Linked DNA regions of Homo sapiens: region 1 is linked to region 2. Evidence: fine-mapped expression QTL. Tissue or cell type: whole blood. Region 2 holds a variant in brackets; the other region holds the start of a gene. All regions are shown on one strand. Distances are from middle to middle. Region 1 holds the start of AKAP1 (A-kinase anchoring protein 1). Region 2 overlaps AKAP1 (A-kinase anchoring protein 1).

Region 1 (15,344 bases), 28 kb before region 2:
ATCTTAAATAACTAGCTAAAAAATTCCCAAGTAGTATGTGGTGGTGATGGTGCCTGGGTAGCAGGCCCCTTCATCACAGCCCCCGGATGGGGCTCCTGCCCTGGGAAGCCAGGGCACCTGAGGTTCAGAGGGGAGTCAGCGGACAGCCCTCTTTTATCATGTTCTGAATGACATCACGTTCCCTTTTACCAACTGCTGTCCATGGTTCAAGAAAGAAGGGCACTGTGTTAATTTCCTAGGGCCTCTGTAACAAAATACTGCAAACTGAGTGGCTTAAGACAGCAGAAATTTATTGTATCACAGTTCTAGTGGGAAGAAGTCCAAATCAAGGTGTCAGCAGGGCCATGCTCCCTCTCTGAAACCTGTAGGGGAATCCTTCTTTGCCTCTTCCTTACTTCTGGTGGTTTGCTGGCGATCTGGCATTCTTTGGCTTATAGATATATTAATCCAATTTTCTGTCGTCACATGGTGCTGTCTCTGTGTCTCCCTGCCTTCACATGGTTGTCTTCTGTTTTTTTTTTTTTTGAGATGGAGTCTCGCTCTGTCACCCAGGCCGGAGTACAGTGGCGCGATCTCGGCTGACTGCAACCTCCGCCTCCTGGGTTCACACCATTCTCCTGCCTCAGCCTTCCGAGTAGCTGGGACTACAGGCGCCCACCACCATGCCCGGCTAATTTTTCTGTATTTTTAGTAGACACAGGGTTTCACCATGTTAGCCAGGATGGTCTCGATCTCCTGACCTCACGATCTGCCCACCTTGGCCTCCCAAAGTATTGGGATTACAGGCATGAGCCACCGCGCCCGACCAAAACATAATTTGCCCAGGCTGGAGTGTGGTGGCACCATCACAGCTCACTGCAGCCTCAACCTTTCATGCTCAGGTGATCCTCCCACCTCAGCCTTCCAAGTAGTTGGGACCACAGGCACATGCCACCATGCTGCACTAGTTTTTTGTATTTTTAGTAGAGACAGGGTTTCACCGTGTTAGCCAGGATGGTATTGATCTCCTAACCTTGTGATCCACCCGCCTCGGCCTCCCAAAGTGCTGGGATTACAGGTGTGAGCCACTGCGCCCGGCCTGGTTGTCTTCTTATAAAGACGCCAGTCACACTGGAGTAGGGGTCTAATCTATCCCAGGATGACCTCAGCTTAACTAATTACATTTGCAATAACCCTGTTCCCACATAAGGTCACGTTCTGAGGTACTGGGGGTTAGGGTTTCAACGTTCTTTTGAAGGGACCTAATTCCACCCATAACAGACCTGTTTCTGTATAAACTGCTCCCTTGGTCTCTGGATTTGCCTCCAGTGGCAGTTGGTTAATCCATGGGTTCCAAGTCAGATGGCTTGGGTGAAAATCTTGCCATCGCTCTTGTGTGACTAAGGTCTGTGGAACAGAAATACAGTGATACAGATTGCTGTGATACAGAAATAAATACAGATAACAAGAGTATCTAGTATTTGAGGTTGATGGAGGATTAGGATAAAGGACTCTGCATGGTGCTGGGCATTAAGTGCTCATTAAGCCTTAGTTACTTAAGTGCCATTAGTATTGTTATTCCCCCAGCTCTTTCCATTGACTTCTCTAGGAGTGGGTTATTTATTCTTCCCTGCAGGCACACATGGTCCTGGGGCATAACCAAATGCATCTCCATTTTAAGAGAACTGGGAGTGGGGCGGAGTGTGGGAGGGCTCCTTCAGTGTATACATATAAAGGAGACAGTTCGTATTTATTAGCACTAAAAAAGTTCTTTCTGTAGATGCTTCCAATAGAAAAGTAGGGCATTTCTCAAACATGTGCCCCTGAAATTGGAGGGACTGCCAAGAGAAGAAAACCAACTGACTAATTTTTTTTTTGAGACAGAGTCTTGTTATGTTGCCCAGGCTGGAGTGCAGTGGTGTGATCATAGCTCACTGCAACCTTGAACTCCTGGGCTCAAGACATCCCTCCACCTCAGTCTCTGGAGTAGTTAAGACTACAGGAGTGCACCACCACATCCAGCAAATTTTTTTAAATTTTTTTGAGACAGGGTCTCACTCTGTTGCCCAGGCTGCTATGCAGTGGCACAATCACAGTTCACTGCAGCCTCAGCCTCCTGGAGTCAGGCAGATCCTCCTGCCTCAGCCTCCTGAGTAGCTGGGACTACAGGTGAGCACCACCATGCCCAGCTAATGTTTTTTATTTTTTGTAAGAGACAGGGTCTTCTTATGTTGCCTAGGCTGGTATTGAACTCCTAGGCTCAAGCACTCCTCCTGCGTCAGCCTCCCAAAGTGTTGGGATTACAGGTGTGAACCACCGCACCTGGCCACGTATCGAGCTAATTTCTAAAATTTTCTTGTAGATATACGGTCTTGCTACATTGCCCATGCTGCTCTTGAACTCCTAGCCTCAAGAGATCTTCCTGCCTTGCCTCTCAAAGCTCTGGGATTATATAGGTATGAGCCACTGCACCCGGCTCATTAACTAGCTAACTGTTTTTTGTTTTTGTTTTTTCTTTTTTTGAGACAGAGTCTCACTTTGTTGCCTGGGCTACAGTGCAGTGGTGTGATGATAGCTCATTACAGCCTCAACCTCCTGGGCTCAAGCAATCCTCCCACCTCAGCTCTGCAAGTAGCAAGGATTAAAGGCAAGTACCAGCCTGTTTAGCTAATTTTTAAAATTTTTGTAGAGATGGGGTTTTGCCATTTTGTCCAGGCTGGTCTTGAACTCCTGGGCTCAAGCGATCCTTCTGCCTTGGGCTCTCAAAGTGCTGGGATTACATGCATGAGAATTAACTACCTTTTAAAAAGAGACTCACAAGGTGGCATTTACCTTGATGGATTTTCCCATGGTCCTGTGTCAAGCCCTCACTTAGCTTTAAAACAGGTTCAGAAACTTCACCATGTTCAAGTCCCAGAACTGAAAGCTGACTCATACTAAAAATATTCACATGATGTACAAGATACAGAAAATGAGAGAGGGTAGGTTATGTAATTTATAATGATAAAAATGTCATTGGTGGACCAGTGCCTTTCATCAGTCCGATCATGGCTTCTCTCCTTAGTGAGAATGATCAGAAGGCTGCTGGGTGGGTACAGAGTCAGAGTGAGGGGCTTGGGTCATAGAATTTAAATGAATAATAGCATTGGGTTCAGATCTGACTGGTTTGACTTCTCAGAGAGCCCAGCTTCTTGATTAAATGAGATTGGACACCTTCTTCCTTTCACAGACACTTACTACTTCTTCTATTTTTATTTTTATTTTTATTTTTTTGGTCTCCTTCGAATACTTTTATTTTTTACCTTCTTATTCTGACTGACATACTCCTTTCTGGATAAAATGTTTTGCTCTATTCACCAGATTCTAATTTGTTGTTGTTGTTGTTAAGGTCAGGATTAGAGTCTGATAGAAATGATCCATAACTAATCTGTACCGAAAAAAATGCCGTATTTATAAGATCATGCAAATGATTTCAGGGTGTTGTGGACAACCTTGATGTCCCAGGTTAAATTCCTATGCATCCTAGGTTAAAATTCCTGCCTTAGGCAGACCTTGCCCATTTTTGAGCTGACAAAGCTGAAGCCTAACAACCTTATCTTATTTTCCTCATGGCCAAGTTCTTAGGATCACCTTCCACCCTCACCTCTCTTCTCATTCCTCTACTTTCTAATCTTATATTAGGGCCACCGTGGTGACCTTGGAACTGTTCAGACCTTGTGGATACTTCCTCAGCCACAGGTACTGGGTTGAGGTCTAATGGTGATTGTAGTCAATCCTATTTTCTCACCTTTCCCCCTTTGACTTGTATCTTGCACTTTCTCTAGTATTCCAGTTAACACACTCCTCTTTTCTTCCCTCATTCCTTTTTTCTGGCAGGCTGTGCCCATGTCCCCTTGCATCGGGTATGACTGACATATTTCTCTCATTCACCGCCGGTCTTTGTCCTTCTTTCTCATAACCATATTCATAGCCCCATCTCGCTGTTTTACTCCTTCCATCTTCCTGTTTTTCTTTCCTACCAATGCTTCCAGGGCTTACATCCCTGGACATCATTTTCTCAGTTTCTTTCTATTCCTACCTCCACTACTGCTAAGCATTGCCTTTTTTTTTTTTCCTTTTTTTTTTTTTTTTTCCCCGAGATGGAATCTTGCTCTGTCACCCAGGCTGGAGTGCAGTGATGCGATCTCAGCTCACTGCAACCTCTGACCCCCAGGTTCAAGTGATTCTCCTGCCTCAGCCTCCCGAGTAGCTGGGATTACAGGTGCACAACATGCCTGGCTAACTTTTGTATTTTTAGTAGAGACAGGATTTCACCATGTTGGCCAGGCTAGTCTTGAACTCCTGACCTCGTGATCCACCGGCCTCAGCCTCCCAAAGTGCTGTGATTATAGGTGTGAGCCACCGTGCCCGGCCTAGCATTGTCTTTAATATATCTTTTTAAACATGATTTTCAAACCATATTTGTATTTCCCATTCAGACCACTCCTCTGAGCTCCAGACTTGCATATCCAACCTAATTACTATTTATACTTTGATGTCACAAAAACAATGGGTCAAAAATGAAACCAACACTTCTCTGCCTTCAGATTTCTCCTTCTCAGGAAATTGCACCCCAGTTCACATTGTAACTCAAGCCAGAAGAATCATCATTCATTGCATTCATTGTTCCTTTTTCTTTACCACCAACAACATGAGTAAGTCTGCTCCTCTTTCAAAATATATCTTAAGTCCAAAGCAGTGTCTTCATCCCCAGAGCCATAATCCTTAGCTCAAACTAGCATCATTTCTTACCTGAACCACGTCCAGCATCCTCTTTCACTACTCTCCCTGATTCGACACTGATCTCTCTCTAATCTGTTCTTCCCACAGCAGCTACAGCTTGCTTTTAAAAACAGAAATTATGTCACTCTCTACTTAACCCTCTTTAATAGCTTCCTATTCATTCACGAAACACATTTTTACTGAACACCCTCTATGTACCAGGCCCTCAAAAATCCCTGCCCTCATGAAATAAATGAAGTCTAGACAGGGGTAAGGGTTATGAAGGAAAGATGGGGTGAGGGATGGGGAGAGAGAGAGAGAGAGAGAGTGTGTGTGTGTGTGTGTGTGTGTGTGTGTGTGTGTGTTTACAATTTAAAAGAGAGTCCAGGCCAGGCACGGTGGCTCACGTCTGTAATCCCAGCACTTTGGGAGGCCGAGGCGGACAGATCACCTAAGGTTAGGAGTATGAGACCAGCCTGACCAACATGGTGAAACCCTGTCTCTACTAAAAATACAAAAAATTTTAGCTGGGCATGGTGCCACGTGCCTGTAGTGGGACTACTCTGGCGGCTGAGGGAGGAGAATCGCTTGAACCTGGTAGGTGGAGGTTGCAGTGAGCTGAGATCGCACCACTGCACTCCAGCCTGGGTGACAGAGACTCCTCAAAAAATAAAAAATAAAATAAAACAGAGAGTCCAGGGAAGACTTCACTGAGTCTGAGTAGGTGACCTTTGAGCAAAGGACTTGAAAGAGGTGAAGACAGTGAGCTTTGCAGAATATTCCATGTGGAGGGAGGCCCTGAGGTAGAGTCATGACTGGCTTTGGGACTGAACAGAATAGAATAAAATCCAAGCTTCACTATTTACTATGGCAAATACTAAGTATTTACTAAGGCAGCCCAGGCCCCTATTCCCCCAAAAAACAAAGACAAGAAACGATCCTCTTTATCTCCTTTCCTGACACTCCCTCCCTCAATACATACCATCCACACTGGTCTTCCAGTTTACCAGAAGTTGTTTCCTGCTTTTTCCTGTGTTGTGCATCTGCTAGGAATACTCCTCCAACCCTTATGCCCGTATACAATTTGCAAGGCTGGTTCCTTCTCATCCAATGGGTCTCAGTTTAAATTTCATTTTAGGCCTTTTCTGACCACAGGACCTAAAACATTTGGGCTCTTTTTGGCCGGGCGCGGTGGCTCACGCCTGTAATCCCAGCACTTTGGGAGGCCAAGGCGGGCGGATCACGACGTCAGGAGATCGAAACCATCCTAGCTAACACGGTGAAACCCCATCTCTACTAAAAATACAAAAAATTAGCCGGGCGTGGTGGCAGGCGCCTGTAGTCCCAGCTACTCGGGAGGCTGAGGCAGGAGAATGGCGTGAACCTGGGAGGCGGAGCTTGCAGTGAGCCGAGATCGTGCCACTGCACTCCAGCCTGGGCGACAGAGCAAGACTCCGTCTCACAAAAAAAAAAAAATAAAAAATAGGGCTCTTTTTCTTTCTTTCCTATGTCAGTTTCCTATTTGTTTCCTTCCTGACATCTACCACACCATGCAATTGGGATTCATATATATATGAATTTGACTTAAATCTCATTAGGTATAGTAAATGGCATCTGTCATTTAAACTTGCATTTGATCACTAGTGAAGATTAAGCATTTTCCCAAGTAATTGTTAGTTCTTAGCATGATCTATTTTCTATATTTTGGCCAAACAAATGTTCATTTAAAGTCACTTTGTTTTAAGGATGACAGCAGGGCTGGACAGCCAAAACCCTACCCTCTCCATTTATTTTGGAGGAATTTATTTTCCCAAGGTCCTGGCAGAGATAGTGACTCACCGTGACTATCTCTGCAAAAATCATTCCAAAACCCACACCAATTCAGAGAAAAGTGCTTCATTTCGATAACATCGACTTGTGAAAACGAGCAAGAAAGTTGCATTTGAGTGGTACCAGGTTTCACCATTATGCAGTTATCGAGCAATTATTAATGGCCAACCCAATTATACGCTACAAGGAAATGACGGTCACAGGGAAGCTCAAAGCCCCGAAGCGAGGGAAGCCCTGCTCCTCACCGGCCCCTCCGCCTTTTCCAGGGCGCTCTCCGTCCCGAGGCAGGAGATGGCCTGGTTGACCCTTCGAGACAAGGCGGCAAAACCGGTGCTGGGCTTGCGGGGCAGGGAATCAAGGTTCCTCCGGTTGCTGTACCGTCCCGCCCGGCCCCTCTCCCGGGCACCGGAGAGATGACGGCTCTCTCGCGAGAGCGCGAGCAAGACCCGGCTCCGGGCGGCGGCGGGATGTTAGCCCAGCGCTGTAGACCGCGCCCCCTCTGGCGCAGCTGGGAGAGGCGCGGCGGAGGCACTGCCGGGAGCGGCCGGCGGCGCGCACGCGCAGGTGAGCGGGGCGGGCTCGGGAGCGCGCGGGCACAAGGGCGAGGGGCGGGGCCTGCGTCGCGCTGCGGGCACGTCGCCGCGCGTCTTCAGTATTTAATGTCTCTGTGTTCCACCCGCCTGGGCTAGCACGTGGGGGAGCTGCGGAAGCGCGGCGCTGCGGGCCGGGCCGCGGGGCACAGCCGGGGGCCGGCGGCGGCGCGCGGACTCCGCATCCCGCACCCCGATGGTAGCCGAGGAGCTGGTAGGTCGGGGGCAGCTGCGCCGGGGACCCCCTGCCGGAGACCCGAAGGCGGCGGGGTCGGGGCGATGGGGAGCCTGAGGTGCAGGTGCAGGGTGCGACGCGCCCTCCAGGTACCCCGGGGGCGGGACGCTCCGGACGCAGAGGTGTCCTGGGGGCTCTCGGCCGCCGCGCGCTGTCAGGCAGGCCCATCTTTCCCTCCCTCGTCTGCGCCCCCTCTCGTCCTTCCCCGCCGGTTGTCTGCCCGCGGGCTCCTGACAGATCGCGTGTGCGCGGCTCTGGGCGGCGCTCTGCGGCCGCGCCGTCCTCCCCACGCGCGTCACTGTCCTCGGGGGCGGGGGGCGAGGGCGCGACGCCCGGGTCGCCTCTCTGCACCTCAACTTAACCGGAGCGTGCACACCCGCCTGCGAGGCTGACCCGAGCGCGTCCCACCCAAGGTCGCCCAGCCCCGCGGGCGTTTACTTTTCAAAGGTCGTGTGTACACAGTCTGAGCCGGAGCTGCCCCTTCACTTCTGGAGCCTCGCCCAACTTCTCACCCTCGGCTCGCCCGCCGGCGCAGCCCCTGGGAGTTCCGTGCGGCGAGCCAGGGGAACTGGGAAGATGGGCCGGGACATCGGCCGGTTGTGATCCAACCGTGTTTCGGGCTGAGGGACCGTTCGAACCGAATTGGGGTCTGGAGGTCGGAGGCTCAGGGGCGTCTCGGGGGGAATTTGCATTCGTAGCCCCTGCAGGCGTGTCCGGAGGGGTGGAGGCCGTCCAGCCTGGGGTGTCTGCCGACCTCACGCCCGGGGGCCCCGACGGTCACGTGTCCGGCCCCGCCTGCGGCCCAGGGCCCGGGGTCTGCGATCTGGAGGGACCGCGCCAGTTTTGGGGTTACGATGTGCTAGGAGAGGCAGTGGCTGGATGCCTCGAACGCGGGCTTTCTGGCGTTCAACTCTTTTGTGCCCTAGCTGAAGGTCTTCCTGTTTCCCTTCCAGGGAGGGATAGGAGAAGAAAGGTGCTGATCGTGGTAGGCGGTGCTGTGGCGACTCGGAACGGCATGGGAGCCCTGGGCGTTTCGGGATCTTCCTCTCCTGGGGGATGTCCTGGGTGGCGGCGCCTTCCTGCCGCCGTTAACACAAACCCGGTGGACTTCGCTCCAGGTGCGAGTCGAGGCCTCTCAAGCTGGGTAGGGTGTATGCGCAGGGCAATTAGTGAGGTTAACCTGGGTATCTTTCCCCTACTGTAGTGCGCGTTACTTCGTGTTTAGATTTGTCTCCAGTGAAATCTAGGCTGCTGGACCTGGTGCAACAGTATCTGTTAGTTACTGATCAAGGAACACCGTTCACAAAAAGCTATTAATTCTGGCAACTAGTAGCCTTACAAGCTCTTGTAACTGCTAAGTCCTTCCCAAATTAGTACCTTTTTTTTTTTTAACTCTTTATTTAGAAAGCAAAGCTTGGACTCTTAGCACCACCCATCCACTTTGCTCTTAAAGGTACAGAACATCTTTGAAATGAAGAAGGCTGCCTGACTTGATCATTTATATAATTCCTCTGATCTTGGCATTGAAGTGGTTCACCTGCTGATTATTTAAGACCCTGAGCACTGGAAGCAAGTGAAGTTATGTTTTGGGAACCTTTTGACTTGTGTTGAACTTTTCTTTAACCTCTAACTAGTTTTGTAGGTTCTGCATAATTCTTGGGTGTATTCTCTTTGAAATATGGCCCTAGGTTAGAGGAGGTCCTCTGGATCCTACAGGCATGCAAATCACTAAAGCTTGAGTCCATTACTGGATTAATAGGCTCTGTCTTCATGCATGTTGTCAGATGATGGCTCAGAACTTGCAGGTAACAGATCCTAGCCAATGAGTGAGACAGGTCTAATGGATTTGTGTCTAGGTCTAGTTCCTTGTAGGAATATCTCTCCCATCTCCCAGTTGTTTCTAGGAAATGCATTCTCACTTGGCCACTGCAGGGTGACAGTGGAGGTGTCTGTTGTAAGTGGCCTGCTCAGGTGCTGAAGTCGATATGTCTCCAGTGTAAGGTTGCTGAACATCAATATTTAAAAGCAATTTATCTTGCTGCCTGGTAACCCAAATTATTCTTGAGCTTTGGACATAGGCTGGGTTGCAGCCATATTTTAGGGGAAGGCTGGTGTTAGCCTCTACAGTATTCCCTTTTCCTGTCCTAAAGACAAATGGAGATCATATTTGTGATACTGGGGACTGTGATAGGTGCTTAAGCATTGCTCTTCCCCTCTCCTCCCTGAACAATCCCTGAGACTGACTTTGTTTCTCTTGAATTACTTGAGTGACTTGAATTCTATTAAAAGCACCCCTCTCCTTAGCCTCTGACCCAGAAGCTTGTTTGGGAGGAAAAACGAATTGGTTTCCCTAAGCTTTGCTGGCTAGCCTCCTGCTCCCAGCCTGCAACATGACTTGATTGTGTGTGCATTTCAGGGCTTTGAAGAGCAGGCAGCTTGTAGCCAATGTACCCAGAGAGCTGGCCGTAGAGTTCCCCTAGGTCACTCCTTCCTAATCTTCCCTGTGAGTCTGAATGATTGGGCCTTTCTGTAGCTTGGTCTGTTTTCCTATTGTGGGGAAGTCAGTTGTTTCAGGTATGAGTTAATACCTTCAGCTTGTCATTCTCAGGCGTTTTCTTCCACTATGGGGAGGTAGTAGATCCTGTGGGCATCTTGTCCCATTGAAATCATCTCATATACTGTTTGAGAGTTGCTCATCTTTATGGTGGGGGGTGTATTTTAGTCCTAAATCTTGCTTCTTAGGGCAAGTTCTGTTTCTTCCATGTTCCTTCCTGGTGTAATACCTCAGGCAGTTTTCACTTTTATGATCATTTAACATTAAGTTCCCATCACATGTGGCATCCCACTGAAGGAACCTCCTGGCCTTGGTACCTAATTTGAAGCTTGGGCTGTGGAAAACATCATCAGTGAGCATGTTTGAAGTAGGACAGAGTCTGGCTGGAGAAACAGGTAGTGGGGGAGCTGGGAGCTAAACTTGAGAGGATGCCTCTTTCTTGATAGTTACTGTGCTAGGTGAGTTATGAGCACACTAATCCTTTAATCCTCACACCTCTGAGAACAGTGAGGGTGAAGCTGGAGGTCATTCTGGATTGTTTCAGTGGCTGTCACACAAATTCAAATTGAGGGGTAGAGGAACTAGGAAGCGTGGGTGTGGAGTTAAAACTAGGTCCTCTGGATGGCTTTTGTGAGAAGAACCAAGGAATATTCTTAAATCCCTGGGCTTTTCTCCTAATCTTTCTGCTGCTTTCTAAGTAGATTGTTAACATTGTGTGTGTTATCATTCAGCATTCTGAGAACTAGCTTTCCAGCAATAAATAGCTTTCAAGGTGTCCTTTGCCTTAACTTTTTCATTTTACTAAATGGTGCAGCCTTGTCCACATTCTGTCCGGGTCTTCACCATCTGGTTGTTTTTCCGGCTTGGTTTGATAGTTTGCAGCAGTCAGTGGTAAACATTGTGTTCCCTGTTCTGTAATGGTGGCTGGTTGTGTTCACCGAGCCAGGTGTCACTAAGGCCCAGTTGCACTTGGGAGCAAAGAAGGGCCCTGAGGTGAGTCCTGGAAGTAAAAATATGTATAACCTAGGGCTGATGAGGCTTGTTTCACTGCTGGGCTTAGCTGACAAGAGCCTGGGACTTGCTGCAGCTCTCAGAGCTGAAACCTGGCGGTGATTCTAGGCAGGCTGGTTGGCCTTCCAGATCTTGGTTTATTCAGTGGCTAAAAGAGGTTTGGTCAAAATTATCAGTATTCAGATTATGGTCCTGGGAGCCTTGGAGTTAGACCAAACGTGCCCAGGGGCCACTGGAGTGATGTGTTTGGGCTGGGGAGCACAGCTCAATGGGTAGTACATGTCAAAGACTTAAGGGGAAAAAAAACAACTCACTGTTCATCTCAAGTTCTTAGCTCTAAGGTGTGCTACTGTTCTAAATATTTTTTATTTTTAAAGATAGCTTTATTTGCCTAAATTTGTCCTGGGTGTGGGGAGTTTAGAGCTGCCTTGTCTGTAGGGTAGCTGCTAGCTGTGTGACTAATTAAACTTTTCAAAGTATTTTTAAAAAAATTTCTTAGTGACATTAGCCACATTTCAGGTTCTCAGTGGCCTCGTGTAGCTAGTGGCTGCCGTCCTGGTCAGTACAGGTCAAGAACATTTTCCATAATCGAAGAAAGTTTTGTTGGACAGCGCCGGCCTAGAAAGTTTTTTTTTCTCCAACTCTAAAAGCTTAATTGTCTCAACTTGTAAATCTCTAAAGCATAACATGTTTGAGCTTAGTCTTCCAGAGTCCATAAACCCAACAGCTTTGGTGACAAATTATCTACTGGTTGTCTCCATGGCATACTACAAGTGAGTTCTAGTCTGCCAGTTGGGAGTGGACGAACAGTTTTGAAACAGTTTGAGTGAGGACCTTCAGAAAGGACCTGGGGACAGGAGCGTGAAGCAAAGGTCCAGATGCTAAGCCCTTAGAAAGCCCTTTTGGTTTGAAGCCGTTTATTATCATAAAGATCCCTGCTGGTTTGTCCTTGGTCTCCAAATGTCAGATGTCAACATATTGTTACTTGGTCCTTCACCCACCTGATGACTTCCTACAGATCTCAGTGCGGCCCTTCTCTTAAACGAGGTTGTGTTTTCATTCTGCTGTTTCCAGTCCACCTAAATGTTAGGGGCCATTCTTCACAGAAGGTGTTGGGGGAGAGTGGGGCCACAGCGTGGATGCTAACGTGTTCTGTTGTGGCAGGGGTGGGGAGTTCTTTGTTTCCAGATGCCCCCTCTTCTAGTCCTGGGTGTGCTTTGTTTGAACCCTGCTAGATTGACCTTTGGTATATATAATGTGAGATCTCTTTTCTTGGAGCCAGGCAGCATAAAGGACACTTACTGATGAGCACCTACTGGCATATTAGTGGCTTTTTTTTTTCTGTGTCATTTTTATTCTCTGTCAGCCCTATGAGGTTAGTACAGTGATTAGTTTGTGGGTGAAGAAACAAGATCCGAGTAGAGTAAACTGGTCCCTGGACACAGCAAGGGCTGGACTGGCTTGGACCTGGGCTGGGGCGTGCTCCCCACCTCCTCCTCTGCCCCTGCCGCCCCCCATGCTCATTGGTTGTTGCTTATTTACTGCCCCTTTATCACCACATCCTCATTCAGGAAACTAAACTGGGTTTTACAAAGATTAAAATCATTGATCCCACATATGGAGTCTGACTTAAGTGTGTTCAGCCTCGTTACAACTCTGTGAGGGAGATATTCCCTATTACAGAACATCTTCATTTTATGGGAAACTGAAGTACAGGATCCTACTCTTAACTCTCTTGTCTTTCCAAAGCCATATTTTATCATCAGAATTATGCAACCATCGGGTGCTTTTGAAATGCACAAGTAATGACTATGAATAAAAAAAGCTGTGCCTGAGGGCTCAGGGAAACTGCTCTGAAGACTGAGCTGATTGAAAAAGACAATCCTGAAGTCACTAATTTCCCGACACCTGTCAGACCTCACTTGGAGGTCACAGACCATCTCCTGGCCCTCCAAAGGCTGTCACCCAGCAGTAGCTGGCCTCCTGATTAGAGGAGGCAGTAAGATCTTTTCAAGCACAGCCCCAGCCCCCATCCCTTCTCTGGCCTGGGCCTGGATGTGCCTTTGTGAGGTTGGGTCGATGACAGATCTGAAGGACAGTTCAGTCTTCTGTACACTCCTTCTTGCCCCTCCTTTCTGCCACTCCCAAGAAAAAGGAGCAGGAGTGATTCTCACTTTCCTGAACTGCCTTGGAGGGAGACCCACACTCAGCTGTGCCTTTAGCTGTCTCTGGGAGAAAAGGCCGTGCTGCAAATAACCTCCCTGCTTTGTCCTTTGGCTTTGGTGTGGCTCACCTGGCCAAGCATGTGCTGGTGCTATTTTTAGCAGGTGGCATCCTTTAGGAGGGCCAAGTGCATGTGGCTGCAGTGTACGGGACAGGTCCTGGTGCCAAAGCTGCTGCTGTCTCTGCTGCCACCGCCTCGTCAGGAGAGAGAGGAGAATAAAGCCACCCTGGAAGCTGCCAAGGGGTGTGTGGAGGGGGTGGCTGCTTAAGAGGTCTCCAGGGCTGCCTTTTCTATTCTGGATCTGTGGCAGGGGCCCAGCCTGCCTCCTGGTGCAGGCAGGCATGTGACTGAGGCAGCCCGGGGAGCTGGGGAGCTGGGGAGCTAGGTGTCAGACTGCTGCCTGGGGAGTGAGGACCCCTTGTTGCCCCAGCAGGCAATTTTTCAGGAAACCACATAACCCCATTAAAAACATTATTTATTTATTTATTTATTTATTTAGAGATGAGGTCTTGCTTTGTCACCCAGGCTAGAGTACAGTGGCTCGATCATAGCTCACTGCTGCCTTGAATTCCTGGGTTCAAGGGATCCTCCTGCCTCAGCCTCCCAAGTACCCGGGACTATAGGTGCACATCATGATGCCTGGCTAGTTAAAAAAATTTTTTTTGTAGTGATGGGGTCTCATCACCTTGCCCAGACCCATTTCAAGACTCCTAGGCTCAAGTGATCATTCCATGTTGGTCTCCCAAAGTGCTGAGATTACAGGTGTGAGCCACCGTGCCTGGCCCCATAACTTCATTTTTGTGTGAAGTTGCCCAGCCTAAAGGCTGGCCACTAAATGGACACTTAAAAACTCTCTAATAGTGTGGATTGGTGGGCAGTCTGATTCCTCTGGCTTAAACCAAAATGCAAACATGAAAGGAGGCATGGCCATAGACCCCCGGTGAGAATTCTTTACTGTGATGACACAGAAGCTGAAGAGGGATGAAAAAGCAGTTTGACCAGCAAGCTTGCTGGTTCCCTAGGCCACCCTTTCTTCTCTCCTTTTCAGTTCCTCCTTCCCTCTAACTTGGAGCTGCTAACTCCAGCCCATCTAACTGTTTCTGATTAAGAAAGCTTCAAGCCTTATAAGGCCCTCTGTTGCCTATGGTTTATGTTGGCTGGAGAGCAAGGTTGTTTTTTGCAAAGTCTGATTCAAAGAAGTGGCAAGGGCTTACGTAGGCTGTGTGTGTCCGCCTCCTGGGGCTGGACTGCCTTATTGGAACAGGTTCCTTTGAGGGAGCCTGAGAGTAAGGGGGGCTTATTATCCCTTACCCTTAGTGGTGGCTCTGTAAGGCTAATGTGTGGTGTGGCCACAGGGCTTCCTGGCAAGTGTATTCGCTGAGAACTTAAAGGTAAAAGCAAGCCCCTGTTTACCTACACAGTGTACCTGTCATGCTACCAGCCACAGAGGCATCCTGTTTCAGGAATCAAGTCTGGAAGCAGCTTCTGCTTATTAATTAAGAACTAAAGCCCCTTGGCTCTTCAGGCACATCGCTTTCCCCTCTGGAGAAAGTTTGGTGGACCGTGTCCCTTGGGGTTCTTGCGAGTCCGACTGGCCTTCCGCGCAGTGATGTTGGAGAGCCCTTTTTCTGAGAGCCATGCTCTGCCTCATCTTCACCTCCCCTCTTGCTACCTCTTGAGTCAGCCAAGCCTGTTCCTGCCTTAGGACTTTGGCACATGTTCTTCCTGCCTGGAACTTTCTCCCCGCTCTCCTCCTGCTTCCCCCCAGATCTTGGCACAGTTCTCAAGTGTTCCAGTTCTGATGCCACCTCTTCCAAGAGGCATTCCCGCCTCATTCTGTCTGCAGCTTCCCCTTCCAAGTGCTCCATCCAGCCTTTCTCATTTCAACCACAGCACACAGAAAAGGACTAGGTGACCGTTCCTCAACTCTCCCAGCTGGTGCCCTGCTACACGCACAGGGATATAGGTAATTCATCACATGCAAGGGCAGCCTTAGGGCTCAGTTCTCTCAATCAGTTGAGAGAGGCTGCAGGTCTTTATATTTAAGTCGCGGAATCTTTGCAGTATCTTACCTGTAATTTGACTCTCTACCCTTCCTTCCACCTTTGCTTCCTGAGGGATCTCTTTGCCTTATGTGCCCAGCGAACTTGGCTCACAGTG
Region 2 (14,735 bases):
CTCTTTAGAGGGGGAAGAAGATAAGGGGAAGAGCAGCTCATCCCAGGTGGTGGGGCCAGTGCAGGAGGAAGAGTATGTAGCAGAGAAGTTGCCAAGTAGGTTCATCGAGTCGGCTCACACAGAGCTGGCAAAGGACGATGCGGCGCCAGCACCCCCAGTCGCAGACGCCAAAGCCCAGGATAGAGGTGTCGAGGGAGAACTGGGCAATGAGGAGAGCTTGGATAGAAATGAGGAGGGCTTGGATAGAAATGAGGAGGGCTTGGATAGAAATGAGGAGAGCTTGGATAGAAATGAGGAGGGCTTGGATAGAAATGAGGAGATTAAGCGGGCTGCCTTCCAGATAATCTCCCAAGTGATCTCAGAAGCAACCGAACAGGTGCTGGCCACCACGGTTGGCAAGGTTGCAGGTCGTGTGTGTCAGGCCAGTCAGCTCCAAGGGCAGAAGGAAGAGAGCTGTGTCCCAGTTCACCAGAAAACTGTCTTGGGCCCAGACACTGCGGAGCCTGCCACAGCAGAGGCAGCTGTTGCCCCGCCGGATGCTGGCCTCCCCTTGCCAGGCCTACCAGCAGAGGGCTCACCACCACCAAAGACCTACGTGAGCTGCCTGAAGAGCCTTCTGTCCAGCCCCACCAAGGACAGTAAGCCAAATATCTCTGCACACCACATCTCCCTGGCCTCCTGCCTGGCACTGACCACCCCCAGTGAAGAGTTGCCGGACCGGGCAGGCATCCTGGTGGAAGATGCCACCTGTGTCACCTGCATGTCAGACAGCAGCCAAAGTGTCCCTTTGGTGGCTTCTCCAGGACACTGCTCAGATTCTTTCAGCACTTCAGGGCTTGAAGACTCTTGCACAGAGACCAGCTCGAGCCCCAGGGACAAGGCCATCACCCCGCCACTGCCAGAAAGTACTGTGCCCTTCAGCAATGGGGTGCTGAAGGGGGAGTTGTCAGACTTGGGGGCTGAGGATGGATGGACCATGGATGCGGAAGCAGATCATTCAGGAGGTAGGAGGGTCTCGGGTTCGTTTAGAGGATGGGGCGCTCCCAGTATTTCTTGGAGAAAGGCTGCCAGTCTGCCTCTCCCTTCTGCTACTTGTGCAGCAAAGTCATAGTGCTCTTCAGCTCTTTATCGCAACCTGCAGAGGTCTGGACACGGCGTAGAGCTGGTGGGTAACTGAGGAGTTAGATTGCCCTGAAACCCCAAGTCATGGGAGCTGTAACTTGGTTCCTCAACCGGTGACCTTCCCCAGTGAGCCCTTCCCAAGGAACTAGCGCCAAGTTGGGCTCGCTGATTAACATTAGTGTGCCTCTTTTTCTTTGTTTAAAAAAATTATTATTATTTTGGTGCAGATGGAGTCTTCCTTTGTTGCCCAGGCTGGTCTCGCACTCCTGGGCTCAAGTGATCCTTCCGCCCTCGGCCTCCCAGAGTGCTGGGTTTATAGGTGTGAGTCACTATGCCCAGCCCATTTTTTTTTCTTTTTTAAACACTAACCTCTTTGTGTGTGCGTGTGTGTGTGTGTTTTAATGGAGAGGCCTCCTTAGCTTTACTTCCCTTGAGTGCCAGGTATGGGTGTGAGTGTTTTGAATGGTTTTTATTTCCTTTTAATCATGTGCTTGTTCCCATGTCTTCACCTGCTTTCCTTCTCCAGAAGCTCTTACAGGGTAAGTGCCCAAAGAACGGCCACAGCTTTGAATACTTGTGGGAGGCTTGAGCTTCCTGAGTTGTCGCTGTCACCTTTGCAGAAAGCCTCAGCCATTTTCTTTCTGTGCAGTTGCAGCTCCACCCCCGGGAAAGCGGGGCACTTTGATAACGAGGTGTCCTGGGTTTTTCGAGTGCTGACCCCAGCGTAGACAGTTCAGACCGCTAACTTACAGGTCAGCAGCTCCTGACCCTGCTTCTGCAGGCACCCTGGGGTGTTTTCATTTATCTCATGGAGAGAGGCCACGAATATCCCGAGTGGCTCTCTGACTTGTTTGTCCTGGAGCCATTCCCTCCCATTTCAGCTCCGGGTAGGTTGGGAATCTTTATTGGGAATTTTACCACTTTCAGCAGCATCTAGTTTGTACCACACGCTACATTTTGTCACCTCCAAGATGCTGTTAAGACACTACTGTTTTTATGTACCTTGGAAAGAAAAAAGTGCTGCCAGTCATGATTATAGAAGGCAAGATACTATATGATGCATCCTAATCTCGGGATGTTTAAATGTTTCTTAAAATACTGCATCTGAAAATGGGTGATTTTTATTTTATTTATTTTTTAAGAATAAAGGAGTTTCCCTTTGCTTACTGCCCCTCAGCTGAATTAACAAGCCCCGCAGCCTTGTCTGCCAACTCTAGATGGATAGTAGTAGCTACTCAGACCTGTTGAAGTCTTCTGAGTTTAGGCTTGAACCTAAGCCGTGGTGATGGGCAGGGAGGTTTAGGGATGGCACGTGGAAATGAGGTAATACTGTCCACGAGCATGCGGTGGGTGCCAAGCACGAGGTTAGTGCCTCGCATGTACCTTCATGTCAGCCCTGCTTTGTTTGTGAGGAAGTTGAAGCTGAGAAGGGGACCAGGGACCACCCCACTGAGGGAGCTGGAAGCTGGCCTTTGAGTGCAGCCTGCTAGAGTCCGGGTGTGGTTCTGAGCCACTGCTGGGAGCCATCGGGATGGCAGGTGTTAGCCAGTCCCATTCTGTGGGGCAGAGGCTGGATACTGTGAGTGAGCAGAGCTCCCCGCCCCCTCGCCCAGCCCCTGTCAGCCTGTTATGCTTCCCGCAGGCTAGCCAAGCAGTCTTCCCCCAGAAGGGGTACTTTTCCCTGCATGAATCCTGTTCGAAGCGCCTAGTGTTAAGGGGGGAAGTCATTTTGAAGGTGATTCTTCCTTAGCTGGGAGCAGGATCTCTTGGGCCTTAGTTCTCTGCATCCAGTGTATGGGTTACTTGGCAAAGGATTATACTCAGGGTTTGGAGAAACCATGTGGAAGGTAACCTAATTGGTAGACTCTCAGGAGTGATCTATTTCTGGTGATTGAGTCATCCATATTTAAGCCAGGGCCACTTCTCTTGAGCTGATCTGGACCCGCTTTTTTGTGACGGTCCCTTTGGCACGCTCTTGAGTGAGAGTGGAACAGCCCAGGTCGGGAGCAGAGTCTGTTCCCATTGGGTTTTCTTGGGCATGAGCTTTGGCTCAGTCTTTTGACCAAGGGAGTATTTGAGCCAGAAGAGTGTTCAGAGTTGCATGAATCAGGCCTAAGCAAAGGGAAAGGAGACTCTCCTTTTTTAGTCCACATATGGCAGAGGAACGAGCGGGTCCCCGCTAGGTATAAGAATGGGGCCCTCAGGCAGGCCAGTGAGGACTTTGTCTAGCTCTGCTGGGCTGAAGGCCAGTACCTATGACCCTGGGACTGGGCCCTGGGGACAGGAGACTGACCCTTGGTCTGAGGGGGTAGGATAGTTGGAAGGGTGTCAAGGTGTTTGTGGTCCATCGGTCTGGCTCTCAGGACCATGTGGACCTCAAGCGTGTCTCCTCCCCCGCCCTCTGGGCTCCCCTTCCCTGGGCGCAGTCTGTCTCTTCCAAGTTCACCACTTGTGTCTCTGCTCCAGCAGCTGTGGCTGGGTGCGGCTGCCAATTAAGCAAGTGGGACTGTAAGTGACAGGCTAAAATTAGGTGTATCGACACCCCCAGTTCTCCTTTCATTGGGGTTGTTCTGAGCCTTCTAGACTGTAAGTTGACAGTCACCTGCCAAGCTTGAGGAGC[G/A]GGTGTGGGGCAGGGCCTCCTGGGAATGTGAGTTTGGGAAGTTCTTGGTTACTGGCTGCTCTGAGTGGGGTCTGTGTGTGTGCGTGCCTGCTGCTTCTTCCCCTGCAGGTTCTGACAGGAACAGCATGGATTCCGTGGATAGCTGTTGCAGTCTCAAGAAGACTGAGAGCTTCCAAAATGCCCAGGCAGGCTCCAACCCTAAGAAGGTCGACCTCATCATCTGGGAGATCGAGGTGCCAAAGGTAGGGGCGGAGTCCCCCAGGCTGGTTCTGTGGTAAGCCCAAAGCTCCCTGGGGCCAGGGCCATTAGACCTCAGGGAGGGAGGGGGCTGGGAGAGGGACAGTAAACCAGAAGGAGCCCTGGGTCAGCCAAAGGCCGCAGGGAAAGGACACGCTACACTTTGCCAAGGCTCAGAGAGCTTCCTGCAACATGGAATTCCTCCAGCTGCCTCCAGGAGCATCTTATTCTTGTACTTCTCAAACTCGCAGGCCTGTGTGTCTCCCTTGGGGGTGGTTCTTGCATATTCTGGGGCTCAGATCTATTTGGAAAAAAAACACCAAGGCCGTGGGGGCCAGCCAGAATCCCTTCACTGAGCTCTGCTCAAGTGCTCCAAGTGTATTTTATAATTGAGCAAAGCATAAATCCATATTTTAGAGAACTTGAAAAGTATAGAAATACATGCAGAAAATAAAAATCAGCTCTAATCCTACCCTTGAGAGTGACTGTGAAAGACTTTTATTTCCTTCTCATCTTGCACCCTGTGGTTTTTAAACAAAACTGAGATTATGTCGCTTTAATTAATACTTTAAATATTTAACAATTTAATTTTCGTGTGTTATTCTTTGAAAATGTAACTGTAACTGCATTATTCACTGTGTGGATGTCAGTTTACTTCATCAGTCCCCCATTCCTGAGTGCTTAAGTGGTTTCGAGCTTCTTGCTATTAGAACTTACAACATATTAGCTTGATCTTGATGTTTATCTCTGGGGCTCAGAAATAATTTGTCAGACCGCATTCTCCCAGGGCCCTGGGCTCTGTGCTCAGGTGGAGACTTGGCTTGGTCTGAACTCTGGGTCAGAGTGGCTGTTTTGACCCTGGGTTGCGAGGTCTCTTGGTGGTTTCCTCCCTGGGGGGCCCTGTTATCCGTCCTGCCTGCTTTTCCTTCAGTGGTTACAAAGGGCATGAAGAGAAAGGCTGTGCCTGAGGATGGACCATGTCCCCAGTAGCTCCTCCGGGAGGGGGTCGTTGGCGGTTGTGTGGGAGCCCATCTTACGTAAGGGCTAAGTTTGGCTGCTTCTATCTGCCTTGAACTCTGGCGCACTGGGCACTTCTGCATGCCTCCTGCTCTGCAGGCTTCAGCCTGCTGTCACTTGGCAGCGGGAGCCCAGGGTTCTTAGACCTTCATTTTCAAATCGAGCCCCTTTATCTTTGGATCTGAGTAGACTTGAGGGAGAGGGGCACGAGAAATCGAGAAACTGTGTGCTGGTGAAACTTCTCAGCATGGCTTTTAGAGGAGAAGATGCTGCTGCCTTTGCAGCTTTCCGGGTCTGGGCCACATTGTTGGGATGAAATGGGAACTGCTTGGTCCTGGAGCCAGACTGCCTGGTTCGACTTCCTGGTTAGCAGCTGTGTGACCTTAAGGTAGTTACTTAGCCTCTCTGGGCTTGTTTCCCCATATACAGAATGGTGATAAAGTTATCTGTGTTTCACAGGTACTATGAGTAAATGTAAGTGCTTAGAATAGTCCTGGAAAATAAATGCTGACATGGTAACAGCTAATATGTTTGAGCATGATCTTGTGTAAAACAGAAGTAGGTCTTTGGGTGTCCAGGGAATTGGTTTCCCTTTAACCCTCTCATCTCTTTTTGTCTTTCTGGAAGCACTTAGTCGGTCGGCTAATTGGCAAGCAGGGGCGCTATGTGAGTTTTCTGAAGCAAACATCTGGTGCCAAGATCTACATTTCAACCCTGCCTTACACCCAGAGCGTCCAGATCTGCCACATAGAAGGTCAGTAACATCTGCTGCTTGTATTGCCTCTTACCTGAAATATTAAATAGAAGTGAATAGCATCTGAGTTTCAATTGCTATCTTTTTGGAATAGGAAACCCTGCTTCTCATCCCAGGGAAGGGAGCATTAGGTATCTTCCCTGCAGCCTTTTCCCCATTTCAGGTGCCTGCGGGAGACTCAGGTCCCTCCCTACTCTGATCTTTGGCCAGGAGAAGTGTGGGTGCTTGGTTGGGCGGGGCCTGGGTCCTGGGTTCATAGTGCCCACCACCCCATAAAGGCTTCTCTCAAAGCAGAAGTGCCCTGTGTGCAATTCCCCCTTGGCATTTTCACAGCTGCCTGCCTCTTCTGTTGCATTGAAAGCATGGATCATAATGGCAGAGGTATCATTTGAAAGGCTTAGATGCCTTTCTTCCTAAAGCAGAGCTTAAGTGTTTTGTTACCTCAAAGATGCACTTGAACTCTATGCAAAGTCCAGTGGAGTGGGGTCTGTGGCTGTGTTTTTGTGAGTGTGGGTGTGAGTTTCCTCTTACAGTGATTGTATGTCCTGCCCCCATCCGCTATTTAGGCTCTCAACATCATGTAGACAAAGCGCTGAACTTGATTGGGAAGAAGTTCAAAGAGCTGAACCTCACCAATATCTACGCTCCCCCATTGCCTTCACTGGCACTGCCTTCTCTGCCGATGACATCCTGGGTGAGCGTGCTACTGGGTGATCCGGACTTCTTGCCACTTTCCCCCAAACCTACCCCAAACAAGAAACTCCCCAGACCTCAGGCTAAGAAGGCCAAGTGCACATGAGTGCCTGCGCCCTCTCTTCTCTGGCCTCTGCTGGTCGGTTCTGCTATGGGACTGTGTTCTGGGGACAGGGCTTAGGTGGTGATAGCGCTGGCAGGAAACCAGAGGCCTCTTGGTCCCCACATGGGAGGACTACTTTTCCTGGCTCTCCCCCTGGGCACCTTTTAAGTTTTCTAGGCGTTTGCTTAGAAAGGATGGTGTAGTTCGGACAGGAGATTGGGTGTGTCCAGGGTCGCCGTTCACCACCTGAGACCTGGGTGGGACTAGAATCATGGGTTTGGATGGCGCTTGTTCTTTCTTCTGGTTGAGTCAGGCCTTAACAGTGGCCCTGGTGAAGGATCTCCTTCCCCTTCCCCTCCCCAGGAGGTGCCTAAATTACAAAGAAGAATGAATACTCCCCACCAGGCCCGGAAGTCCAGTGACTCTTGGGAGGTTGCCCCAGGAGTTTGGCAGAGGGAAGAGCTGCTATCTCCAGGGCCCCTGTGTGCTGCTGACTGCAGGGTCTCTCAGGGCCGTGGCCCATATCCTGCCGTGTGCCTCTGGCCCTGGTTGGGTCTTATCTCACTGGGAGTAGAATTGCAGAATTCTGTGGGCCAACGACTGTTGACTACGTTTTACACAGATGGACAGATGGGCTGACTATAGCTCCAAGGAAATTGTCCTCCTTCGTGTTTTTTTTTTGTTTTTTTGTTTTTTTATGGATGGTAGGCATTTCAGTTTTGTGTCTTCCCCTTTGCAAAGGCCCTTGGGCTGGAGGGAAAGGATTGGGATATCTTTTTCCTGTGGATATGTGAGAGTAGGCTGAATACCACTTTATGCTTTACTCCTGAATCAAGAGTTTTTTCCCAGGAGGCTCGGTCGTAGACTCACTCTCTTTTTTTTTTTTTTTTTTTTTTTTTTGAGACAGAGTCTCACTCTGTTGCCCAGTCTGGAGTGTAGTGGCATGATCTTGGCTCACTGCAACCTCTGCCCACCAGGTTCAAACGATTATCCTGCCCCAGCCTCCTGAGTAGCTGGGATTACAGGTGTGCTCCACCATGCCCAGCTAATTTGTATGTTTTTAGTAGAGATGGGATTTCACCATGTTTGCCAGGCTGGTCTTGAACTCCTGACCTCAGGAGGGTAAGCAGTAGGAGGGAGAGCAAATAGGAAGCAGACTCTGCTAGACCTTGACCATGGACCTGACCTGAGGCCACTGCTTGCTCTTGGGAGGGCAGCGTAGATGCTGTCAGACCATAGGCTCCTGGGGTTGTCTGCCAGTCCACAGGAGTTGGCTAAAGGGCCTGGGGCCTGCCTACTGCTTATTTTCAGGAGTCTTGTTCTCAGCGGCCACCTCATTCCTGTGTTGCCCTCCCTGGGTCTTATAGATTCATCAACAGAAGTGGGAGGGAGGGCACTGCTGGTAGGTGGACCCTGCCCAGGCCTGTGCAAGGCCCAGCACTACCTCCGCAGTTGCTTCTTGGTTGCCCAGTGTCTGTGGGACCCTCCCTGCCTGGCCCTGAGGTGAGACTGCCCCTAATGGCTGCTCGTGGTATTGCAGGACAACAGCCACAGGGGTGTCGAACACTTTCTGTTGTTAAAGTAGTCCTTCAACCTCTACCTTCTGGGTGCCATGTTGTCTTGAGTTGCCCTTTTCAAAGATATGCTAGCCCAGAGACTTGCCCTTGGGTCTCGGGACTTATTCAAAGATGAGATAAGAAGGATTGTTTCAGTGACCGCTCCCCCTTCCCCTCTACAGCTCATGCTGCCTGATGGCATCACCGTGGAGGTCATTGTGGTCAACCAGGTCAATGCCGGGCACCTGTTCGTGCAGCAGCACACACACCCTACCTTCCACGCGCTGCGCAGCCTCGACCAGCAGATGTACCTCTGTTACTCTCAGCCTGGAATCCCCACCTTGCCCACCCCAGTGGAAAGTAAGCAGTGCCCTGAGGGGTCGGGAAGGGGGACCCCTGGGGTTGCCTGTTCTGCCCTGGATCCTGATCAGGAGGAGGCTGTTCTGCGATCCTTCATGGAAGCAGCATCCTTCAATTCTTGCCATTGTTATGGAGCTGGGGTGGGTTTCCTGGCAAGGCAGAGCTGGGGTTTCCACTGGCTGGCAGAGTGATGGGTGTTGGAGTAGAGTTTTGACACAGGGATTCAGATCCCAGCTCTGCCACTAATTTTTTTTTTTAATTTTTTCTTTTTTTTTTCCCTCAAAGCCAGTGTCATAGTATCTGCCACCTATTTATTATCTGTTAAAGGGGGTGATACCCACTTGTTCCAGGAATTAGTGTTGAATACTGTATGTATTACATATAAAGCACTTATGCATATAATGGTTACCACAAAAAAATCCCCAAGTCCAACAAGCCTGTGCAGCGTGTTGGGTCATCTCCATTTAACAGATGAGAAAACTGGGCCTCAGGTGACTTGCCCAAGTGAGCAGGATCTGGGGTCTGAGCCCAGCCTTTGTCATTATTATCTTTGTTGTCCTTATCACAGAGGATGGAATGTCAGAACATCACCCATTCCTCACCAGGGGATGGCAGGGTCACTCAGTGCAGTAGAAAACCTTCTGAAGTGATCTCTGTAGCCTTTTGTGTGGATTTTTTCCTTTTGGAAGGATAAGGACTTAGTTTTCATTGGCTTCTCTAAAGTTGCCTTAACCCAGCAGTAAAGACTGAACTGGAGCCTGAGGGGTAACTGCCAGGGGTTCTCTCCAAGGGTCAGGACCCAGCACAGTCAGCCTCATGTCACAGGTCCTCATCCTGGCCAGCGTGGGCAGCTGTTGGGGTGCTGCTGGGAACGTTTACCTCCTGGTCTCGTCTGCCTCTGACCCACAGTGGGTTAGTGACTCCTTGATCCTGGGTGGCTGCCCAGGTGCTGTCAGCACCTTCCAGAGGCAAAGGCTAGAAGAAGGGGGTTTAGGCCCAGGAGGCCCCTTCTGGTCAAGCTCTCCAGCTGAGTTGTGGGCTGGAGCACACCCTAGGTATGAGGATGCTGAGATCTGCTGCACTTGATTTCTTCAGGGACTTTCTTTTAAATGTAAGGCTGGCCCTGGCCCCCATTCCCCGAGTGCTATATTTACTTGGTTTATTCCTATTCATCTGTGTCCCTCTTGGGTCCCAGAAGTTTTGGAGTAATGGATCTAGACTGAATGCTTCTCAGTCTGGATGGCCTCGGGGGCGGCACACTTGCTAGGCTGAACTTCTCACATCCAGGTTTTTCCCTCGGCTGGTCTTGGGCTTGGGGGAGGCTTTGCTTGGGGCCGGTTGCTGTTCCTGTCCCCTGCACTGTGGAGGTTGCAGGCCTCTGAGAGGTAACGCAGGGAGGTGGGTAGTGGCCAGGTGGCCCTTGGTGCCCTGCCCTGGCCCAGGCGTTCCACGCACTCTGCTCCCTACCCTGCAGTAACGGTCATCTGTGCCGCCCCTGGTGCGGACGGGGCCTGGTGGCGAGCCCAAGTGGTTGCCTCCTACGAGGAGACCAACGAAGTGGAGATTCGATACGTGGACTACGGCGGATATAAGAGGGTGAAAGTAGACGTGCTCCGGCAAATCAGGTGAGCGGAGATGCCTCAGGCAGGCCTACGCCCTGCTTGTTCTGGGATGCGTGATCTCTGCGTGGCTGGCTCAGTTGTGCCAGGGCTTGGGTGAGGGTTACTTCTTCCCTCCTGCTGCCTACTGTGTTTTAGCAGAGTCTGATAGAAACAAACTCGATTACTCGCTTAGCCAAACTGAGCTAGAAGGCCTGTATTGTGGAAGAATCCCCAGCATCATCCTTCAAAAGTGAAGCTGGGCCAGGCGTGGTGGCCTGCTGCAAATCCCAGCGCTTTGGGAGGGTCACTTGAGTGCAGGAGTTCAAGACCAGACCGGGCAGTATAGCGAGACCTCATCTCTACAACATCAACAAAAAAGGAAAAAAGTGAAGCAGGCTCCTTTTTAGGAATTTGTCATAGGAAGTCCCTCTGAGGTCAGGCTTGCAGCAGGGTCGGCTGGCTGTGTTTGGGTGTGCTGTGAGCCGTGGCCTCCTGCAAAGTACGAACCCTCTGCTTTGCTGCATCCCAGGTTATGGGCGTCACTGTACAAAGATGAATACTGGCTTGGAGTGGAGTCAGCCTTCATGTCCACATTAAACTTGTTCCTTTCTTGCCTTCCCAGGTCTGACTTTGTCACCCTGCCGTTTCAGGGAGCAGAAGTCCTTCTGGACAGTGTGATGCCCCTGTCAGGTAACAGCTGAGGCCTTTGGCTTGGGGGATTGTTGGGGACAGTTGTTGAGAGTAGGTCTTTCTCAGAGCCTCCGTTCTCACCTGGAGGATTTATGCTAACATAAGTTGCTACCACTCAAGAGTTTCTGACTGAATAGGTCTGGGCTTAGGCCCAGGAACTTACATTGCTATCAAGTTCCCAGGTGAGACCAGTGCTGCTGATCCTTTGAGATCCACTGCTCTAGACTGTACTCAGACCTCAGGCATCAAGGGGCTTCCAACAAAGGCACTTTCCAGATTATAGTCCAGACCCAGAGTCTTAGCCCCGGTGGTTGAGGGCGTGCTGGTCACTGATACTGCTCAGCCAGGCCATAGCTCCATAGGGCACAGTGGGGACACCCTATCTGGTGTCTTAGACTATGAAAGCATTGTCAGAGGGAAGAGGACTGGCAAAATCTTGGGTAAATGACTTAGCCTCAATTTTCACCCCAGAACATGGGAATGGTACCTGTCTTTGATGCTGGCTGTGAGAATTACATAAACCTAAGATCTGGTGTGTAGAGGGTGGCGAAATGGCAGCTGTTTATGGCTAGGAATTTTATATTTGTAGGTGATAGTTCATCCCATCCCACTCCCTCCCCAGGTTTGCCCCTTCTGATCTCCTTCTTGCTTGTCTTAAGCGATTTGCATGCGTTAGAAATACTACAGTCTAGCTGGAGTCGGCTTAGAGGGAGCACTGGGGCAAGATCTTTGTTTTGCTTCTTTTATTGCTGTTGCCCCTCCTTCCTCTCTGCTTCTGTCCATCTAAGCGATCTGTCCAGACCCAGCTGAAACTTTCTCCTTCGTAAGATTTTCCCGGATCTTCCTTGGTAAACCCCTGTCTCTCCCATCCTTGCCACTGCTTGCCTTGGGTATGGTGTTCTATGTAACTTTTGTAATCCAGCAAAGCTGAATGCTGCCGCAGCGCCTTGCCCACTCTGAGTGGCTGGCCTTATTGGGCTGTGTGGCCAACTGCCTGGGTTTGATTCCCACCTTCACCACTTGGGAGCTGGTTGACCTTCAGGAATCCACCTTTGCCTCAGTGTTCTCTCCTGTAAAGTGGGGATAGCACTTGGTGTTACTAATTTTGTGGAAGAACACATATGCTCTGCACTGCCAGCATCCGAGTTGGTGGGGGTGGGGGTGGTGCTGCTGCTGGTGGTATTGGTGGTGGTGTTAGTGGTGAAGTTTCTGTCCATCTGTTGTCTGTGCTGCACCAGTGGGCAACATGCAGTAGCGGCCCTTAGTTTATCCACTGGGAGTCATATGGAGGCCTAGGCTCTGTCTCTGACCTGGGTGGATCTCCCCAGTGCAGTTCTCAAGTTCCACAGCATCTGAAGCATTCTACTTGGAATGCACCTGAAACTTGTGTACATGACAAGGGTGCCTTGCCTCAGTGAGAGCCTAAATGCCGCTTTTCCTTTTCCTCCTGAAGACGATGACCAGTTTTCACCGGAAGCAGATGCCGCCATGAGCGAGATGACGGGGAATACAGCACTGCTTGCTCAGGTGTGTGGTTGGCAGGGGTGGGGGAGGCAGGCTGGCTGGGTTCTTGGGAACTGACCTTTCAATGCCTTCTTTCCTGTGGCTTGGCCCTGGATTGACCAGCAGTATTTAAGGAAAGGTGCATGAAGTAGCTAATACTTGATATTAGTCTGTTCTCACATTGCTGTAAAGAAATACCTGGGACTGAATAATCTATAAAGGAAAGAGGTGTAATTGACTCACAATTCTGCGGGCCTGGGGAGACCTCAGGAAACTTACAATCATGGCAGAAAGGGAAGAGGCACGTCTTACATGATGGGCAGGCAAGAGACAGTATGTGAAGGAGGAACTGTCAGATACTTATAAAACCATCAGATCTCATGAGAACTCACTATGACGAGAACAGCATGGGCACACCGCCTCATGATCCAATCACCTCCCACCAGGTCTCTCCCTCGACACATGGGGATTATGGAGATGACAATTCAAGATGATATTTGAGTGGGGACACAAAACCTAACCATATTATTCTTTCCACCCCCCTTCTTCAGGTGACAAGTTACAGTCCAACTGGTCTTCCTCTGATTCAGCTGTGGAGTGTGGTTGGAGATGAAGTAAGTTCTGCCCTTCTTTTCCTTCTGTGTTGCTGGCCCGAAGTAATGGATTGATTAGGAGCTGGTCCTGGGATTTGTTTCCTCTTGAGTTAATCAGAGGATATAACTGTAGACAAGCACCTCCTAGGGAACACTTTGGATGTCCTGATTGGCAGTGGTGATGTCAGTGTCCTCTAGTGGGTAGAGGCCAAGGATGCCACTAAACATCCCATAGTATTCAGGACAGCCCCCCACAGCAAATAATTATCCAACCGCAAATGTCAATAGCGCCAAGGTGGAGAAACCCTGTGCGAGACTTTCTGGGACCTTCTGTCTGTTGAGTTTTTCTGTCCTCTATCTTATGGTATGAAAGCTTAGATTTCTTCAGCATATTAAAAAGCCTATCCTGGCCAGGTACAGTGGCTCACCCCTGTAATCCCAGCACTTTGGGAGGCCGAGACGGGCAGATCACTTGAGGTCAGGAGTTTGAGACCAGCCTGGCCAACATGGCGAAACCCCCATCTCTACTAAAAATGCAAAAATCTGCTGGGTGTGGTGATGCACACCTGTGATCCCAGCTGCTTGGGAGGCTGAGGCAGGAGAATCACTTGAACCTGGGAGACGGAGGTTGCAGTGAACCAACATTGTGCCACTGCACTCCAGCCTGGGTGACAGAGCAAGACTCTGTCTCAAAAAACAAAAACAAAAACAAAAAAACCCTATCCTTATGCCACAGCAGCCAACAGAATACTTAAATAAATGTTCCTGTTGGCTAGAGCATAAGCCATGTCCCCCACCCTGTTACTCTTTTTTTTTTTTTTTTTTTTGAGACAGTCTTGCTCTTGTTATCCAGGCTGGAGTGCAGTGGCGTGATCTTGGCTCACTGTAACCTCCGCCTCCGGGGTTCAAGCGATTCTGCTTCAGCCTCAGTAACTGGGATTACAGGTGCCTGCCACCACACCTGGCTAATTTTTGTATGTTTAATAGAGACGGGGTTTCACCATGTTGGCCAGGCTGGTCTCGAACTCCTGACCTCAGGTGATCCACCTGCCTCAGCCTCCCAAAATGCTAGGATTACAGGCATGAGCCACTGCGTCTGGCCTACACTGTTACTCTCATACATCTGTTGCCTGCAGTGGCAACCGGGGAGGGGAGAACTCATGTTGGCTAGGGAGATGGCCCCAGGATGCCATGGACAAAAGCTTTAAGGGAACTTTCTTTTCTAGGTGGTGTTGATAAACCGGTCCCTGGTGGAGCGAGGCCTTGCCCAGTGGGTAGACAGCTACTACACAAGCCTTTGACCCCCATGCTGCTTCCTGAGAGTCTTTTTTTGCACTGTTGAAATTGGGCTTGGCACTCAAGTCAAAGATGAACATCGGAATAACAAACATTGTCCTCTCCAGAAAGTCCTTTCTTTCTCCATACTGTAGTCCTATTGAGAAGACATTTCGTCTCTGAGAAAAAAGGATGGAACTATGGGTTCTCTTCGCAAAGCCAAAGGATAGTGTTTAACAAGCCAGCTGGCTTATGCTGGTTCTCAGCTGTTTAAAAAAAAAAAAAAAAAGGAATAGAAACAGTTTCAACCAGATTGTCCTATTCCCCCTGTTCCATTCCCCTCTTCTTCCTTCTATCTCCTTCCCCGGCAAAAACCAAACAAACTGGCAGACAGGCCAGGGATGTATGTTGCTTGCTTGAGAGGGTTTCTTTTACTTCAAAATCTTTCTTCAGGGAGCAAGACATGAACTGACTAATTGGTATCCACTACTTGTACAGCTTACATAAATGAGTTGATGATATTTAACCAGTTTTTATAAACTTCATTTAGGTCTCTAAACACAGACTTTTTAAATTGCAACTGTAAATATGAAATGGTCATCACATCTGAC

The links. PIP is the estimated chance that this variant, and not a neighbour inherited with it, causes the effect.
Region 1: it holds the start of AKAP1, and the variant in region 2 is fine-mapped to the expression of AKAP1 in whole blood (TOPMed, PIP 0.95).

Annotation. Positions count from the first base shown.
Region 1 is chr17:57,078,025-57,093,368 of GRCh38, forward strand. It overlaps AKAP1 (A-kinase anchoring protein 1), which reads left to right and starts at 7,222. Exons shown (of 11, transcript NM_003488.4): 1 at 7,222-7,374. It overlaps AKAP1-DT (AKAP1 divergent transcript), which reads right to left and starts at 7,014. Exons shown (of 3, transcript NR_186437.1): 1 at 6,816-7,014; 2 at 1,263-1,386; 3 at 270-679. RefSeq lists enhancers at 1,027-1,765, 6,679-6,758, 7,798-8,300, 13,388-13,937, 14,860-15,344 and silencers at 6,979-7,558, 7,599-7,898, 8,179-8,268.
Region 2 is chr17:57,106,175-57,120,909 of GRCh38, forward strand. AKAP1 (A-kinase anchoring protein 1) reads left to right here. Exons shown (of 11, transcript NM_003488.4): 2 at 1-1,004; 3 at 3,851-3,984; 4 at 5,624-5,750; 5 at 6,317-6,444; 6 at 8,285-8,462; 7 at 9,937-10,087; 8 at 10,686-10,753; 9 at 12,207-12,280; 10 at 12,808-12,870; 11 at 14,076-14,735. The coding sequence ends at 14,150. Among named protein-coding and RNA genes, the nearest start is that of AKAP1, 28 kb to the left of the region's middle. RefSeq lists an enhancer at 2,695-3,296 and a silencer at 7,894-8,188. The variant G/A (reference allele first, on the strand shown) is at 3,743.